Regions from separate parts of the Homo sapiens genome. Here region 2 is linked to region 1. A link means that fine-mapping ties the variant in region 1 to the expression of a gene that starts in the linked region. Tissue or cell type: naive CD4 T cells. Region 1 holds a variant in brackets; the other region holds the start of a gene. All regions are shown on one strand. Distances are from middle to middle.

Region 1 (8,086 bases):
CTGTTTATCCAAACACCAGGAAAGGTCCTCCCTCAAAAAAGCATATCTCCACTTCTCTCTAGCTGTATCTAACCCACCGTGTGAATGAACTGGGAGAGGGGCATGCTCCCCAGCTGTGTGTAGTCGTGACTTCTCAACAATCTAGCACCATGTCGGACACGTTCCCCATCCACCCTCCTAGCTCTGCTCTCAGAGCTAGGCACATGGGCACAGGTCCCCTCCCGTCTGTCCTCTCCCAGCAACTGTGCCCTGGAGGGCTCCACATGGCCCCCGTGTCTCTCGGGCACCACCCATATAGCAGTCCCAGAGGGCCCATCTGTAAAGATCGAGCTTGTGTGTGGTGTCGTGGTCACATCTCCCGCTTCCCCCCATCCTGTGTCTGGGCACAGTTCACATCAGGACAGCGTCCATTGTGCTCTCAGTCTGCCTCAGGTGTGTGCCTGGAGGGGGCCTGGACTGGCATGGATCCAGTGTGCAGAAGAGCCAGCAGGGAACCGGAAGCTCTGATGTCAAGGCCAGAGCAGTTGAGAATGGGACCCAGAGTAGATGCTGACCTGGGCACTCCACCATTCCGGGGCCACCACAGAGATGCCAGCAGGATGCCACTTTGCCAGCCCGACACACGGACCTTTGTAAAGAACAGCAACAGGCAGGAGAGGCAGCGTGTGACCAGATTGTGTCCCGTCATTGGGTGGCATATGTTAACTAGCTGCCAAACAACTTCAACCCGTGTAATTCATGTACATTTGCAACAGCCAGCCCGGTACAGCCTGTGTGACTTCTCTGTATGTGTGTGTGTGTCGTGACCAGCCTAAGTAGTTAGCATAACTCAAGATGCTGATGTGCAGTCACCCATCAGAGAAAATAAAAATGGAAACCACGTTCACAGCATTTTAAAAGTTTTTACTTTTTTTCTTGATTATGGAAGTAATCCATGTACATAGTAAATCATTTTAAAAGTACAAAAAGTATGAAGAAGTTTGTCTTAAAAAAAAAAAAAATTATTCCTCCAACTAGAGACCACTCTGATGTTTCGACGTTTTAAAAAAGTCTTTTTTTGTGCATTTTTTCATCGTTGACATCATATTGTGGTATCATTTATAACCAGTTTTTTCCTACTTATTATACCACCATCTTCCACATCATTAAAAGCTCTTTGTAAACATTAAACACTCTTCATAAATCATGCCAATGTCTGTTTAGTAATCCATCTTGTGGATGTACTGTAATTCATCTAATCATTTCCTCACTATTGGATGTGTAGACTGGTTCTAGGTTTTCTTATAAATAGTGTCTTGGATTAGCCAGGCATGGTAATGGGTGCCTGTAATCCCAGCTACTTGGGAGGCTAAGGCAGGAGAATCACTTGAACCCAGGAGGCAGACGTTGCGGTGAGCCGAGATCGTGCCATTGCACTCCAGCCTGGGTGACAGAGCAAGACTCCATCTCAAAAAAAAACAAAAAAAGTGTCTTGGGCCAGGCGCTGAGGCGGGAGGATTGCTTGAGTCCAGGAGTTCGAGACCAGCCTGGGCAACATGGCAAAACCCTGTCTCTACTAAAAATACAAATAGCTGGGCATATGCGGTGGCGCGGGCCTGTGATCCCAGCTACTTGGGAGGTGGGAGGATTGCTGGAGCCTGGGAGGTTCCAGCTGCAGTGAGCCATGATCACACCACTGTATTCCAGCCTGGGCAACAGAGCAAGATCGCACCCCCTGGAAAAAAAAAATAGTGTCTTGATAAACATCTAGGGGGATAAGGTTTCATCTGAATTTTTTATTTTTTCCTTAAGATAAACTCCTAGAAGTAAAATTATTGGGCCATTCATAAGTAGCATTTTCAAAATATTTGTAAATTGGCTGGGTGCGGTGGCTCGCATCTGTAATCCCAGCACGTCGGGAGGCAGAGGCAGGCTGATCACTTGAGGCCAGGAGTTCGCGACCAGCCTGGCCAATACAGAGAAACCCCATCTCTACCAAAAAATACAAAAATTAGCTGGGTGTGGTGACTTGTGCCTGTAATCCCAGCTACTCAAGAAGCTGAGGCAGGAGAATCTCTTGAACATGGGAAGCAGAGGTTACACTGAGCTGAGATTGCGCCACTGCACTCCAGCCTGGGTGACACAGCGAGACTTCGTCTCGAAAAAAAAAAAAAAATTTGTAGATCAAAAGGTCTTTGGTTGGACAGGCCCTCCCAGCAGGCTGCTAGACCCCAGTCCTCCCACTCTGCGTGTTCGCGGCTTTGGTCTGCACACCACTTCCCACCATTCTGATGCTGAAAAGGGTCCCTTGGGCTACTCAGTGCCACCACAATGGCCTCAGAGGACCCCGTGTCCTCCTTCACCAACCTAGACCAATCATGAAGCCAGACTCTTCGTGTACTGGGGATGCCATAATGAATGACCTTCTACTGGGTGACTTAAAACAGTGGAACCGTCTCCTTTCACAGTCCTAAAGGCCAGAAGCCTGAAATCAACCTGTCTGCGGTGCTCTGCTCCCTCTGTGGGGAAGAATCTTCTTTTGCCTCTTGCAGCTCCTGGTGGCTCCTGGCACCTTGGCAGTTCCCTGGCTGCACCACTCCAGTCTTCACCTCTGTCTCCACGTGGCCGCCTCCGCTGTATATGTGCCTCTGTGCACCCTCTCATCTTAAAAAGACACCAGTCATTGGAGTGAGGGCCACCCGAATGCAGTATGATCTCATTTGGACCCTTTCCTTAATTACTTCTGCAAAAACCCTCTTTCCAACCAAGGTCACATTCTGAGGCTCCACGTAGACATGCATTTGGGGAGGACCCAATTCCACCCACCACAGACCCCTCCCGCTCCAACGTGCAGTGAAAACTCAGGCTGCAAAGGGCCCACCGCCCTCTTTTCCCCATAAAAAATGTGGGTCAAGGCTGGGCACTGTGGATCATGCCTGTAATCCCAGCACTTTGGGAGGCCGAGGTGGGAGGCTCACTTGAGGTCAGGAGCTCATGACCAACTTGGCTAACATGGTGAAACCCCATGTCTACTAAAAATACAAAAATTAGCAAGTGTGGTGGCACATGCTTGTAATCCCAGCTACTCGGGAGGCTAAGGCAGGAGAATCGGTTGAAACCAGGAGGCGGAGGTTGCAAAGAGCCGAGATCGCACCATTGCACTCCAGCCTGGGCAACAGAGTGAGACTCCATCTCGGAAAAAAAAAAGGGGGGGCTTGGGGGGTCCGGGCGTGGTGGCTCAAGCCTGTAATCCCAGCACTTTGGGAGGCCGAGGCGGGCGGATCACGAGTTCAGGAGATCGAGACCATCCTGGCTAACACGGTGAAACCCCATCTCTACTACAAATACAAAAAATTAGCCGGGCGTGGTGGTGGACGCCTGTAGTCCCAGCTACTCAGGAGGCTGAGGCAGGAAAATGGCGTGAACCCGGGAGGCGGAGCTTGCAGTGAGCAGAGCTTGCGGTGAGCAGAGATTGTGCCACTGCACTCCAGCCTGGGCGACAGAGCGAGACTCCATCTCAAAAAAAAAGGGGAGAGGGGAGTGGGGGGGTCAGCGAGGTCTGACCTCAGGCCAGTTATACAGCAGTCACTCACAGATCCAACGAACCAGAGGAGATCAAACCCTCATCAAAATCCTGCCTCTGGTACTTCCGCTAAGCTCTGGGTACACCTACTGTATGTTCCTGTAATTCCTACTGATTTTTTTAAAAAAAGAAAACATTAAAAAATCCAATTTATTTAAGCTGTCACAGACGCTTCCAGATTACCAGGGCCACCTTCCAAGCTGGGAAACCTTGCAGACTGTGGGGTCCTGCACACCTAGACTTGCTCCTTTTAGAAGCCATGGAGGAGGTTGATAATGGGAATAACATTTATTGTAGCTTATCTCTATGCCTTGAGCAATGTGCTCACACTGGCTGGTTCCCTCCTCACATCAGCCTGATGAGTCAGATCCTGTTATTACTTCTCACTTTACAGATGAGGAAGTAGCAGTAAATCCATTACCCTTTTCAAGCGGAGGTTGCAAGAGGTTGCAAGCGGAGGCAGAATAAACACTTGAAACAGTGAGTCAGATCCTGTTATCACTTCTCACTTTACAGATGAGGAAGTGGCAGTAAATCCACTGCCCACGGTCCCAGGGGTTGTTAGTGACAGAGTCATCATTCATCTCCCTCCCTCCCCACCACTGTAGCCCCAATTGTTCTTTCTCTTCCCATCGGAGGGATTTAAACAGGTCTCTCCCATTTAAAAGCAAACAGGGCTGGACACGGTGGCTCACGCCTGTAATCCCAGCACTTTGGGAGGCCGAGGCGGGCAAATCACGAGATCAGGAGATTGAGACCATCCTGGCTAACATGGTGAAAACCCATCTGTACTAAAAATACAAAAAAATTACCTGGGCATGGTGGTGGGCGCCTGTGGTCCCAGCTACTTGGGAGGCTGAGGCAGGAGAATCGCTTGAACCTGGGAGGCAGAGGTTGCAGTGAGCCGAGATTGCGCCACTGCACTCCAGTCTGGAGACACAGCAAGACTTTGTCTCAA[A/AACACACACAC]ACACACACACACACACACACACACACACACACACAACACAACACAACAACAACAACAACAAAAAAAGTGTCCTCTTCCTTTTAGAGAATTTAAAAAACAGGGTGAAACCCCATGTCTACTAAAAATACAAAAATTAGCAAGTGTGGTGGCACATGCTTGTAATCCCAGCTACCCGGAAGGCTAAGGCAGGAGAATCGGTTGAAACCAGGAGGCGGAGGTTGCAAAGAGCCGAGATCGCACCATTGCACTCCAGCCTGGGCAACAGAGTGAGACTCCATCTCGGAAAAAAAAAGTGGGGGCTTGGGGGTTCCGGGCATGGTTGACTGTGTGACTATATTATATCTATACATAATATATAGATATATATCTATATATAATATATAGATATCTATATATTATATATAGATATATATCTCTATTATATATAATAGATATATCTATTTATATATAGATATTATAGAGACATCTATATCTATATCTATATATAATATCTATATTATATTACGCCTGTAATCCCCGCACTTTGGGAGGCCGAGGCAAGTGAACCACTTGAGGCCAGGAGTTTGAGACGAGCCAGAGCAACATGGCAAAACCCCGTCTCAAAAAAAATTAGCCAGGTGTGGTGGCAGCATCTGTAATCCCAGCTGTTCGGAGGCTGAGGCATGAGAATCGCTTGAACCCGGTAGGAGGTTGCAGTGAGCCGAGATCGTGCCACTGCACCCCAGTCTGGGCGATAGAGTGAGACTCTGTCTCAAAAAAAAAAAAAATGTATTTCCTGATTCTTGCCACACCTGCCCTTGATGCATCAGACTCTGGCTGCTGAAATACCAAGGGCGGCGACCCTGCAGCCCCAGTGTGGATTTGTCTGCACTTGCTGATACCAGAAACTGCAGTGGGGGCAGGTGGGTGGTAGGAGCGGGGGTTCCCTCATGCCCAGGCCCTGCACCTGGGAAGCCTTTGGAGGCCATCACATGAGCTGCCTGAGGCGGATGGAAGAGACGGTGCCAAGCAGGCCCAATATGTTCCCTGCTGGCCCTGGTACTGCTCCCCTGCGGATGCTCCTGGTTGGTTCACCACCTCGTGCGGAGTGAGGAGCTGAGCAGCCCAGCCACTGAGCAGGATTTCCCTCTAAGAACGGCCCCTTCCACCCTGCAATGCCTTCTTCCTCTGCACCTCAGCTCCCCCACTTCCAAGGCGTTCCTTCCCGGAACGTGTGTATTCTTCTCTTCATCTTGCTAAGGAAAGTTCTGGCTCTTGGTGCTCTGGCTTGGCACCTTCTAAGCTCTCTAGCCCTTTTCCCCCCGCCCCCCCCCCCCCCAAAAAAAAGCGTTCTCAGCCAGGCGTGGTGGCTCATGCCTGTAATTCCAGCACTTTGGGAGGCTGAGCCCAGAGGATCACTTGAGCTCAGGAGTTCAAAACTAGCCTGGCCAACATGGTGAAACCTCATCTCTACTAAAAATACAAAAATTTGCCAGTGTGATGGTGCACATATGTAATCCCAGCTACTCGGGAGGCTGAGACAGGACAATCGCTTGAACCTGGGAGGTGGAGGTTGCAGTGAGCTGAGATTATGCCACTGCACTCCAGCCTGGGTGACAGAGTGAGACTGTCTCAAAAAACCAAAAAACAAAACAAAAAACCACTCAGGCTTAGCCATTTCTCTGGGGTCTTCATTTCCTTATGAAGACTCTCGCAAAACTGGTATGAAGTAAAATTTGTTTGCTTTTTTCCTATTAATGTCTTTGTCAGTTTAAGGCCCAGCCAGGGACACTAGGAGAATTGAGGAAGTTTTGCCGCCCACCGCCCCCCCCCCCAGCAATGGGGACAGCAGGTGGGTGGAGGCCGCTGAGGGCTTCTGCGCCATGACTCACCCTCTGCCCATGGAAGCAGCTAGAAAGTGAAGGTGAATCCCAAAGCGCAACGCTCCTTCTGGCAAAGGGAACAGAGAGGGAACAGATCTTCTTCAATCAGCGCAGCCCCCTCTGCTACGGACAGGTCTGCTCTCCCCCAGACAGCTGTCTTCTAGGCCCCCACCTCTGAATCACCTTCCTAGGTGGGAAACAAACAAAGATAAATGCAAAGCCACCGTTCCAGCCCCAGTCCACACCTAACAAGACCTCCTGACGCCGCTCAAAAGGGGCACGATGGCTACTCAACTTTTTCTGCACAAATTTGCCATCGTGAAATGTTTGGAAAGGTCTTTAGCAGCTTTTAACATTGCTGAACTTGAAAAAAATGTCATCAAGAAGCAATTTACTCAAGTCTCTTCTGGGTCCTTTTAAATTCTTGCCAGAGGGTGCTGGTGGCAGGGGTGACGGGGTAATGGCGGTCTCAGGGGATGGGAGGGCTTCACAACTGTATCTGTGGAATAACTCTTTTCCAAATTGGCTTATTCAAAAAGCATGCTTAGCAGTGACCAAAAACGAGACAGCGGGCACGCTGGATTTCTTTCACAAGAAGAGAGAGCCTAGGAATTAATAGAGTTTTCTAACTGGAAGGTTTTTGTGGTTACTGTATTTTCCCACATGTAATTATAAGCTGGAACAAAGGCTGGAAAACTTGGAGGATCCTGACGACGAAGGGCCCACCATCCAGCCACCTGCTTCGGCGTGTGCTGAGTTTAAAAGGCCTCTAAGATGTAGACGGATTTACTCTCCACCTCACAATTCTATTTCCAGAAGGGGAGAGAAGTTGAGGAGACCCAAAATGAAAGATGGCAGAACTGTATTGGTTTGTAATTCCTCCCCACAGACAGACAGACAGACAAAACCACTCACTTGGGAAACTCAAAATAGATGCTCGCTTGTAAAGTTTATTGACAACTGTTTGGTCCCAACACACAAAACAGCACTTGAACCACAACAAAAGTGTTCAAACAAAGTAGACAACTAAGAAAAACATCTCTTTCCCCCAAACCCAATCCAAAACAAACAGTGCAAGATGGGAAAGGGGGTTTTGGTGATAACTTTTGTCATTTTTTTAAACAGATAAATTTAATCCGGTATATCTTTCCACCCAGAAATAAAGAATTACATTGTCTTAATGCTCAAACATCATTTTACCACATCATTTAATTAAGCCTCTGGATAAAAAAATAGATAGCAATTGGACTGGCCATTGTGGAGTACATTATGAACACAATGTGCTTCCGAAGTCTTCTCTCTCATTTTCAGACAGCAATTGTTAAGAGTCACACACACGTCCCAGACCTAAGCAGCAACTCCAGTGAATGGTACTCAGACACACTCACGGGACAGCACAGAACTTGATTCTTCTTTGTCTGTTGCCCAAAGAACCTGTTCTTTGAGTCTGTTCCAGGTGACTTGTAATGATACCTCTTACGGTTTTAAAGTCCACCACTCTTTACATGCTAGCAGAACTGAAGTCCAAGCGTGCAAACTCAGCCTTATGAAATCTTAGAATAAGGCAACTGATGTTCTCAACACCAATTATTATTACTTTGTTTAAAAGCTCCTTTAAAAAAAATTGCACATTTGCATTTCACTTCCTGTAACACTATGTCTGTAGAGGAAATGCCTTCAGGAGGATTCGGAGAGTGCCATAA
Region 2 (8,104 bases), 300 kb after region 1:
AGCTCACTGCAACCTCTGCCTCCCAGGTTCAAGCAATTCTCCTGCCTCAGCCTCCAGGGTAGTTGGGACTACAGGCACGTGCCACCACGCCCAACTATTTCTTTTTTGTATTTTTAGTAGAGACGGGGTTTCACTGTGTTGGCCAGGATGGTCTCAATCTCCTGACCTCGTGATCCACCCACCTCAGCCTCCCAAAGTGTTGGGATTACAGGTGTCAGCCACCGTGCCCGGCCAATACATAATTCTTTAGTGAGGGGAAAAGGCGGGGGATAGGATTATAGTTGCTTACTGAGACCTGAACTTAAGCCCCAGTCTCTCATATATTTTCAAGAGTGTCTGCCACTGCACACAGGTTCTGCTTGTCACTAACAACCTCTGGTCTAGAAAGATGATTAAAGAAAACAACTACATTCCATAAAAGAAGTCTGTTGGGTTACTGTGTAAAAACCTTGATGGCAGGGCATGGTGGCTCATGCCTGTAACCCAGCACTTTGGGAGGCTCAGGCGGGCGGATCACGAGATCAGCAAATTGAGACCATCTTGGCTAACAAGGTGAAATCCCCCTCTCTACTAAAAAAATACAAAAAATTAGCCGGGTGTGGTGGCACGCACCTGTAGTCCCAGCAACTTGGGAGGCTGAGGCACAAGAATTACTTGAACCTGGGAGGTGGAGGGTGCAGTGAGCTGAGGTGGTGCCACTGCACTCTAGCCTGGGCGAAAGAGTGAGACTCTGTTTAAAACAACCAACCAACCAACCAACCAAAAAAAAAAACACAAACCTTTGATAATCCACAACGCTTTAGGGAGTGAAAAGGTGTTGGGTTTTTCATTGTTGTTATTTTGAAACAATCTCGCTCTGTCGCCAGGTTGGAGTGCAGTGGCACGATCTCGGCTCACTGCAATCTCCAGGCTCCCTGGTTCAAGCAATTCTCCTGCCTCAGCCTCCCAAATAGCTGGGATTACAGGTGTGCGATACCACGACTGGCTAATTTTTGTATTTTTAGTAGAGACAGGGTTTCACTATGTTGGCCAGGATGGTCTCCATCTCCTGACCTCGTGATCCACCCGCCTCAGCCTCCCAAAGTACTGGGATTACAGGCATGAGCCACTGCGCCCACTGGCCTCGTTGTTTTAAAGACAACTATGAGTTAATTCCTTAGAACAGTAGGATTCTGAAATTTTAAGCCTAGTTAGAAATCTACCACGTGACTGTATCAATGCCATCTTAAGGAGTCAGGGATGTGTATGCAGAATGGAAATCTAACTTACTGATTAGCCAGAGTCACCATGACAAAGCAGTTATGATCATGGGATTTGGCTGTACATACTTAGTATAGATAATGGGGATCTTAGGACTGAATTGGCACCATCCCTTGTAGTGATCTGCAACTTTTATTTTCAAACAGTTCCTACTGGCTAAATGACAACTTCAGAGAATGAACACATCTCATCCACAGAGTCAAGAACAGAGCAAGAGCTCAGTAGGTGTCACCTAGAAGGATTATAATACATTGCTGTACACTACTGGGAAATCAATGTAGTTTAACACTGTTCTGCACCCTGCCAAAGGCACCAAGTAAGTACATCACAATAACAAAAATCCATAAAGAGAGCCCAGGAGCTTATCCAAGTCAGTATGGACATAAGATCTTTCTAAGCTTCAATAAATAACGTCAACAATAACCCTGGATCATATGACTAAAGAGATAGAATCTTCACTGACTTTTGACCTTTCTTTCCCCTCATTTTTAAAGCATCCCTTCAACCTTCTTGCAGATAGGTTAAGTACAGTTATCACCAGATCAGAGTTTGTAACAGGTCCATAAAAGGAAGGTACAGCCTTATTGTACTCTTAGAATCATAACTGAACCCCTATTCTCTAATTCCATCTTTGGAAATTGGATGGAGAGATTTTGTCACTGGCAAGGATCCTGTCCCAATTACTCTGTATTGCACACAGGACAGCCTCAAACTGGACAGAGAAACGAGAATTAGTGACAGTGGAATGAGGAAAGCTAGCATGTCTCATCAGCACCTCAGTGGTGGATTACCAACCCATGCCTCAGTTGCCTTCTCTAAAATAATGAGCTCTACCTCTCAGAGATAGAACCAAGTAAGAAGGAAAAACGTGATCGTGCTTAAAAAAGGTAAATGCCCATAAAATGTAAGGTAACTGGCTGGCAAACAAGTTTTCACCGGGTTTCTTTTGGAGGTCCATAGCATTTTACCTTTCCCTCTATTATGCTTAGAACACTGCGCCATCAAAACTTCTTCGGAAAGGTCTTAACCTCGCTTATATTTCAAGAGTACCTTTTTTATTTTATTTTTTAATTTGTTTTTTTTTTTGAGACAAGGTCTCATTTTGTTGCCCAGGCTGGAGTGCAGTGGCACCACTGTAGCTCATTGTCACCTCTATCTCCTGGGCTCAAGCTATCTTCCTGTTTCAGCCTGTGGGGTAGCTGGAACTACCACAGGCCACTATGCCCGGCTCTTTTTTTTAATTTTTATTTTTTAAATAAAGATGGGGTCTCACCATGTTGGCCAGGCTGGTCTTAAACTTCTGGGCTCAAGCGATCCTCCCAAAGTGTTAGGATTACAGGCATGAGCCACTGTGCTTGGCCCATTCCAAGTGTACCTTTAAATCCTCTGAAAATGTATGCAATATTACATGTGATGTGTATTTCCCTGGGAACAGCATCTGTAGACTCGTGAAGTCTGTTCTTGTGGACAGATGCATGCCTGTTCTGTTTTATGATTGTTCACCAGCCCTGTCCCCAAATACACACTTTTATACACGTCTCCTCCCTAAAATATCTAAGAATTACTAGTTTAAACCCTGGGTTCCCTGCAAAGTGGAACTGGTTTTATTTTTTGGACAGCAATCTTGCTCAGTGATTAAGACCTGGCGCTCCAGTGCGTCACAACTAGGTTCCCATGCTGTGTCTCTTTCCAGTGAAATCACTTTGAGCTATTTCACTTCTCAGTACCTCGTTTCCCAGTCTATGAAATGGGCATAGGGTTGTTACAATCAGGTAACACACAGGCTGAGTTGAGTAGTGCCTGACACATGAGGCTCAATGATAACTATTATTACTATTACTTGTCTGGACATTTGCTTCAAAGTAAACAGCGTACAAATGTCATTAATGACTCAAACATAACTAGCTTAGAGTATCTTTTCCTGAAAAGACAGGAGAATGGCCAGGCCAGCAAACTTTTTGCCTCTAGTTTCTTCTGATGAAAAAGGGGCCAGGCGCTCACACCTGTAATCCCAGCACTTTGAGGGGGCCAAGGCAGGAGGATAGCTTGAGACCAGGAGTTCGACAGTAAGACCCCGTGTCTACAAAAAATACAAAAATTAGCCGGGCGTAGTGAAGAGCCCCTGTATTCCCACCTGCTCTGGAAGCTGAGGTGGGAGGATAGCTGGAGTCCCGGAGTTCGAAGCTGCAGTGAGCTGTGATCGCGCTACTGCACTCCAGCCTGGGCGACAGAGAGACCCTCTCTTTAAAAAAAAAAAAAAAAAGCAAGGAGGGGAGGGCTACTTAACAGGTTGTTGTAAGGACCCAACGAGACAACCAAGCAAATTGTTTAGGGCAGTGCCTAACCCAATAGGGGTTGTGGGAATTGTAGTCATCAGCCCTGAGTGCCAAGCCTGGTCCAAGTCCTCCAGCCCCCGGCAGGGTCCAAGAAGATGAGCCAGGGGCCCAAGATGCAGGCCTGTAGGCCTCTTAGATGCCTGAAGATTACGCAACTCCTCCTTTAGCTCCAAACTGGCTTAAAACTCGCCAGTGGGCAACCTCTTCCCCATAAGAGCTCCCCGCGCACGGGCCAAGACAGCAGCCAGACGCTCCCCGCAGGCCCTCACACCGAAGAATGACGCCTGTAAAAGCCAACCCATGTGTTCCGCGCGCTCTCCTCCCATCCCATCCTTTCCACAAGATGAAGGCCCGACGCTTCCCATGTGGAGGCCTCCCTGCTCGCACTCACCAGCCTTCAACTCTGCCACAGTCGCCATTTTTCAACGGCCGCCAGGGCCGCACCGCGGCCCTGCGCACGCGCAGCTCCGCCCCACTCACCCTGCGGCGTGGTCTGTAGCCAATAGGCGCACAGCTCTCGCCCCGCCCACTTCCGCCCCTCTCAGTTTATGAGCTCTGCGGTTGAGTGGGTAGTGAATGTCGACCAGAGACTCCACCAATCAGCGAGCGCTCTCGGAAGGCCCAGTTGAGTGAGACGGCAGGGAGGGCGGGGACTGAGGCAGTGGAGAGCCCTGTGGGGTGCTGCTGGCACCTTAGTGCTTAACTTTAGCCAGCTGAGTTTTTCATTGTCTCTGCAGCCTCAAGTACCAACTGCTAGTAGTTACCACCTATTAACCCTGCGGTTCTCAAACTTGAGCATGAATCCTCATCACCTCCAAGACTTGTTTAAACGGATTGTTTGCTAGTCCTCCCCATAGAGTTTCTGATTCTGTAAATCTGGGGTGAGGCCCTAGGATTTGCATTTCTATCGAGTTCCCAGGTGGTACTGGTACTGCTGGTCGGTCTGGAGATCACACCTCGAGAACCACTGTATTAAGCACTTACTGTGACGCCTTAGCGCATTATTTCCTTATGATCACGCCGTTTTTACAATGAAGGAAACAGAGTCCTCCATCGCTGAAGAGACTTAACCAAGGTCACCAGCCTGTCCTCTTCCACTCGCACTTACACAGTGCATGTAAGGAGTCCAGGAGCTTTTTATGGAACTAACTAATGAAGGAATAAGCTCCAACATCCCATGGAAGTAAAGGAAAAGGAACAGGGGAATAATGTACCCTAAACTGAGTGTGAGGTTGCATGATTCCAGTTGTAATGCCGGTGAGATCCAAACACTTGGCTAAATAATAAACATCGATTAGACGTACACCTAAGAGTGGCCGGGCGCGGTGGCTCACGCCTGTAATCCCAGCACTTTGGGAGGCCGAGGCGGGCGGATCCCGAGGTCAGGAGATCGAGACCATCCTGGCTAACACGGTGAAACCCTGTCTCTACTAAAAATACAAAAAATTAGCCGGGCGTGCTGGCGGGCGCCTGTACTCCCAGCTACTCGGGAGGCTGAGGCAGGAGAATGGCGTGAACCCGGGAGGTGGAGCTTGCAGTGAGCCGAGATGGCACCACTGCACTCCAGCCTGGGCGACAGAGTGAGACTCCGTCTCAAAAAAAAAAAAAAAAAAGTACACCTAAGAGCTGCCAGGGCACGGTGGTTTACGCCTGGAATCCCAGCACTTTGGGAGACTGAGGTAAGGAGTTCGAGAACAGCCTGGCCAGCCTGGTGAAACCCCCTCTGTACTAAAAAAAAAGTACAAAAATTAGCCGGGCGTGGTAGCAGGAGCCTGTAATCCCAGCTACTTGGGAGGCTGAGGCACAAGAATCGCTTGAACCTGGGAGGCAGAGGTTGCAGTGAGATGAGATCGCGCTACTGCACTCCAACCTGGACGACAGAGCGAGACACCGCCTCAAAAAAAAAAAAAAAAAAAAACCACCTAAGAGCAAGGAAACCTCTTTCCGAGGAACTTCCAGCATACTTTTGGTTCCATGCCTATTGTTTTTAAAACTGATACATTGGCCAGGTGCGGTGGCTCATCCCTGTAATCCCAGCACTTTGGGAGGACGAGGAGGGAGGATTGCTTAAGCTCGGGAGTTTGAGATCAGCCTGGGCAATGCAAGACCCCATCTCTCCAAAATAAATACAAAAAATTAGCCGGGCATGGTGGTGCATGCCTGTAGTCCCAGTTACTCCAGAGGCCGAGGATAGAGGATTGCTTGAGCTCAGGAGTTCTAGACCAAGCTGGGCAACATGAGACGCATTTCTACAAAAAAAAAAAAAAATTAGCCAGATATGATGGTGCATGCCAGCTACTCGAGAGGCTGAGGAGAGAGGATCACTTGAGCCTGGACGGCTGATTGTACCACTGCACTCCACTCTGGGCGACAGAGTGAGTCCCTTTCTCAAAAAAAAAAAAAAAAAAAAAAAAAAAAGAAAAGAAAAAGAGAGAAAGAAAAATTGATATATCACAATTATGGGGAGGGACGTGATATTTTGATACACATATACAATGTGTAATTATCAAGTCAAGGCAATTGGGATAAACATCACCTCAAACATTCTTTGTGTTGGAAGCATTACAAGTATTCTAGCTATTTTGAAATATACAATCAATAATTGTTAACTATTTTTTTTAAAGGGAGGGGGAACAGCCTGGGCAGCATAGGGAGAACCTGTCTTTAAAAACGAGCAAACAAGGCCGGGTGCGGTGGTTCACGCTTGTAATCCCAGCACTTTGGGAGGCCTGAGGCAGGCAGATCACAAGGTCAGGAATTCGAGACCAGCCTGGCCAACACAGTGAAACCCCATCTCTACTAAAAATACAAAAATTAGCCGGGCGTGGTGGCAGAGGCCTGTAATCCCAGCTATTCGGGAGGCTGAGGCAGGAAAATTGCTTGAACCCAGGAGGCAGAGGTTGCAGTGAGCCAGGGGTGCAGAGGTTGCACTCCAGCCTGGGGAACAGAGTAAGACTCCGACTCAAAACAAAACAAAACAAAACAAAAGAGCAAACAGCCAGGCACGGTGGCTCACGCTTGTAATCCCAGCACTTTGGGAGGCCGAGGAGGGCAGATCACCTGAGGTCAGGAGTTTGAGACCAGCCTGGCCGACATGGTGAAACCCCATTTCTACCAAAAATACAAAAATTAGCTGGGCATGGTGGCAGGCATCTGTAATCCCAGCTACTCGGGAGGCTGAGGCAGGAGAATCGTTTGAACCTGGGAGGTGGAGGTTGCAGTGAGCCGAGATCACGCCGCTGTGCTCCAGCCTGGGCGACAAGAGTGAAACTCCGTGTCAAAAAAAACCAAAACGAACAAACAAACAAAAAAACCGAGCAAACAAAACAAAAAATTAGCCTGGCATGTGTCCCTGTAGTCCGAGCTACTCGGGAGGCTGAGGCAGGAGGATTGCTTGAGCCTAGGAGGTGGAGGCTACAGTGAGCCATGACCATAACACTGCATTTCTAGCCTGGTGACAAGGGGAGATGCCTTTTCTTTCCCTTCCTTCCTTCCTTCCTTCCTTCTTTCCTTCCTTCCTTTCCTCCCTCCTCTCTCTCTCCTTCCTTCCTTCCTCCCCGCCCTTTCCCTTTCCTTCCTTCCTTCCCTCCCTCCCTCCCTCTTTCTCTCTTTCTCTTTCTTTCTTTCTTTCTTTTCTTTCTTTCTTTCTCTCTCTCTTTCCTCTTTCTCTCTTACTTTTTCTTGAGACTTAAAAAAAAAGGGGGGCCAGGCAGAGTATCTTGACCTAGAGTCTAGGATAATGCTCTTTAAACTGCTGGTTAACCAAATAGTAGGTTTTGAAATCTATTTATTAGTAGATCCCCATGAGTACATTTTCAGTGAAATGGAATGTAACAAATAGAAAACATAGAAGTATGGTTTTCTAGAACTTTCCTTTCAGGTACACATGTGTGTTCTGGTACCTGTTGTATTTCTTAAAGTGATCAGCCATCAGAAAAGTTTGAAAGTGATTGTAACCTAGAGGAATCTCTTCCTATTCCAAACTGGATTAATTTTTGACTGGATTAATTTTTGATTATGGGACACATATCTGTTCTGTAACCTTGAAAAGGTCCTATCTTGTTTCTCTACTCTGTAAAACCACAGTGACTGAATACCTGGCCAGCATTTCAAGAGATTTTTGGGGATTAACTAAATTCCATAGGTGGTATTTTTAAGTCCCTCAGAAAAAGCACTCCTGTGGTGTTATGATATAGGTATTGATTTTCATCTCCACGATTCCTGGCATCTAACTCCCATTCACCTCATTATAATGTTGAGGCACTTTAGGCCTCAGGAAACAGAATCTCCCTCTCTGATCTTCTCCTGTCCACCTCTGACCTGCCCCAAGCAGGACTCTAATCTGACTGTGGGTCAAAAGACCCTCATTCCAGAAAGGGTTCTGCCTGCTACCCTCAAGGAAGAAATGCTGCACAGAGAGCCCAAGAAAAGTCTGAGCAGACAGGCTTTGCTGGGTTTAGATCAGGCACTTTCTGTCCAATCAGATTTCTTTCTTTTTTTTTTTTTTT

Which allele goes with the higher level. Alleles are on the strand shown, and positions count from the first base shown. SD is a standard deviation of normalised expression in the study named.
For the expression in naive CD4 T cells of the gene that starts at base 4,033 in region 2, A is the low allele of the variant in region 1 and AACACACACAC is the other (large effect, 2.0 SD a copy in Schmiedel 2018).

The links. PIP is the estimated chance that this variant, and not a neighbour inherited with it, causes the effect.
Region 2: CEP20 starts here. The variant in region 1 is fine-mapped to the expression of CEP20 in naive CD4 T cells (Schmiedel 2018, PIP 0.95).

Annotation. Positions count from the first base shown.
Region 1 is chr16:15,587,074-15,595,159 of GRCh38, forward strand. It overlaps MPV17L-BMERB1 (MPV17L-BMERB1 readthrough), which reads left to right. Exons shown (of 6, transcript NM_001414674.1): 6 at 1-1,186. It overlaps BMERB1 (bMERB domain containing 1), which reads left to right. Exons shown (of 6, transcript NM_033201.3): 6 at 1-1,186. It overlaps MARF1 (meiosis regulator and mRNA stability factor 1), which reads right to left. Exons shown (of 27, transcript NM_014647.4): 27 at 7,314-8,086. Among named protein-coding and RNA genes, the nearest start is that of MIR6506, 20 kb to the right of the region's middle. RefSeq lists enhancers at 11-512, 3,453-4,652, 3,999-4,293. The variant A/AACACACACAC (reference allele first, on the strand shown) is at 4,521.
Region 2 is chr16:15,884,571-15,892,674 of GRCh38, forward strand. It overlaps CEP20 (centrosomal protein 20), which reads right to left and starts at 4,033. Exons shown (of 5, transcript NM_144600.4): 1 at 3,988-4,033. The coding sequence starts at 4,015.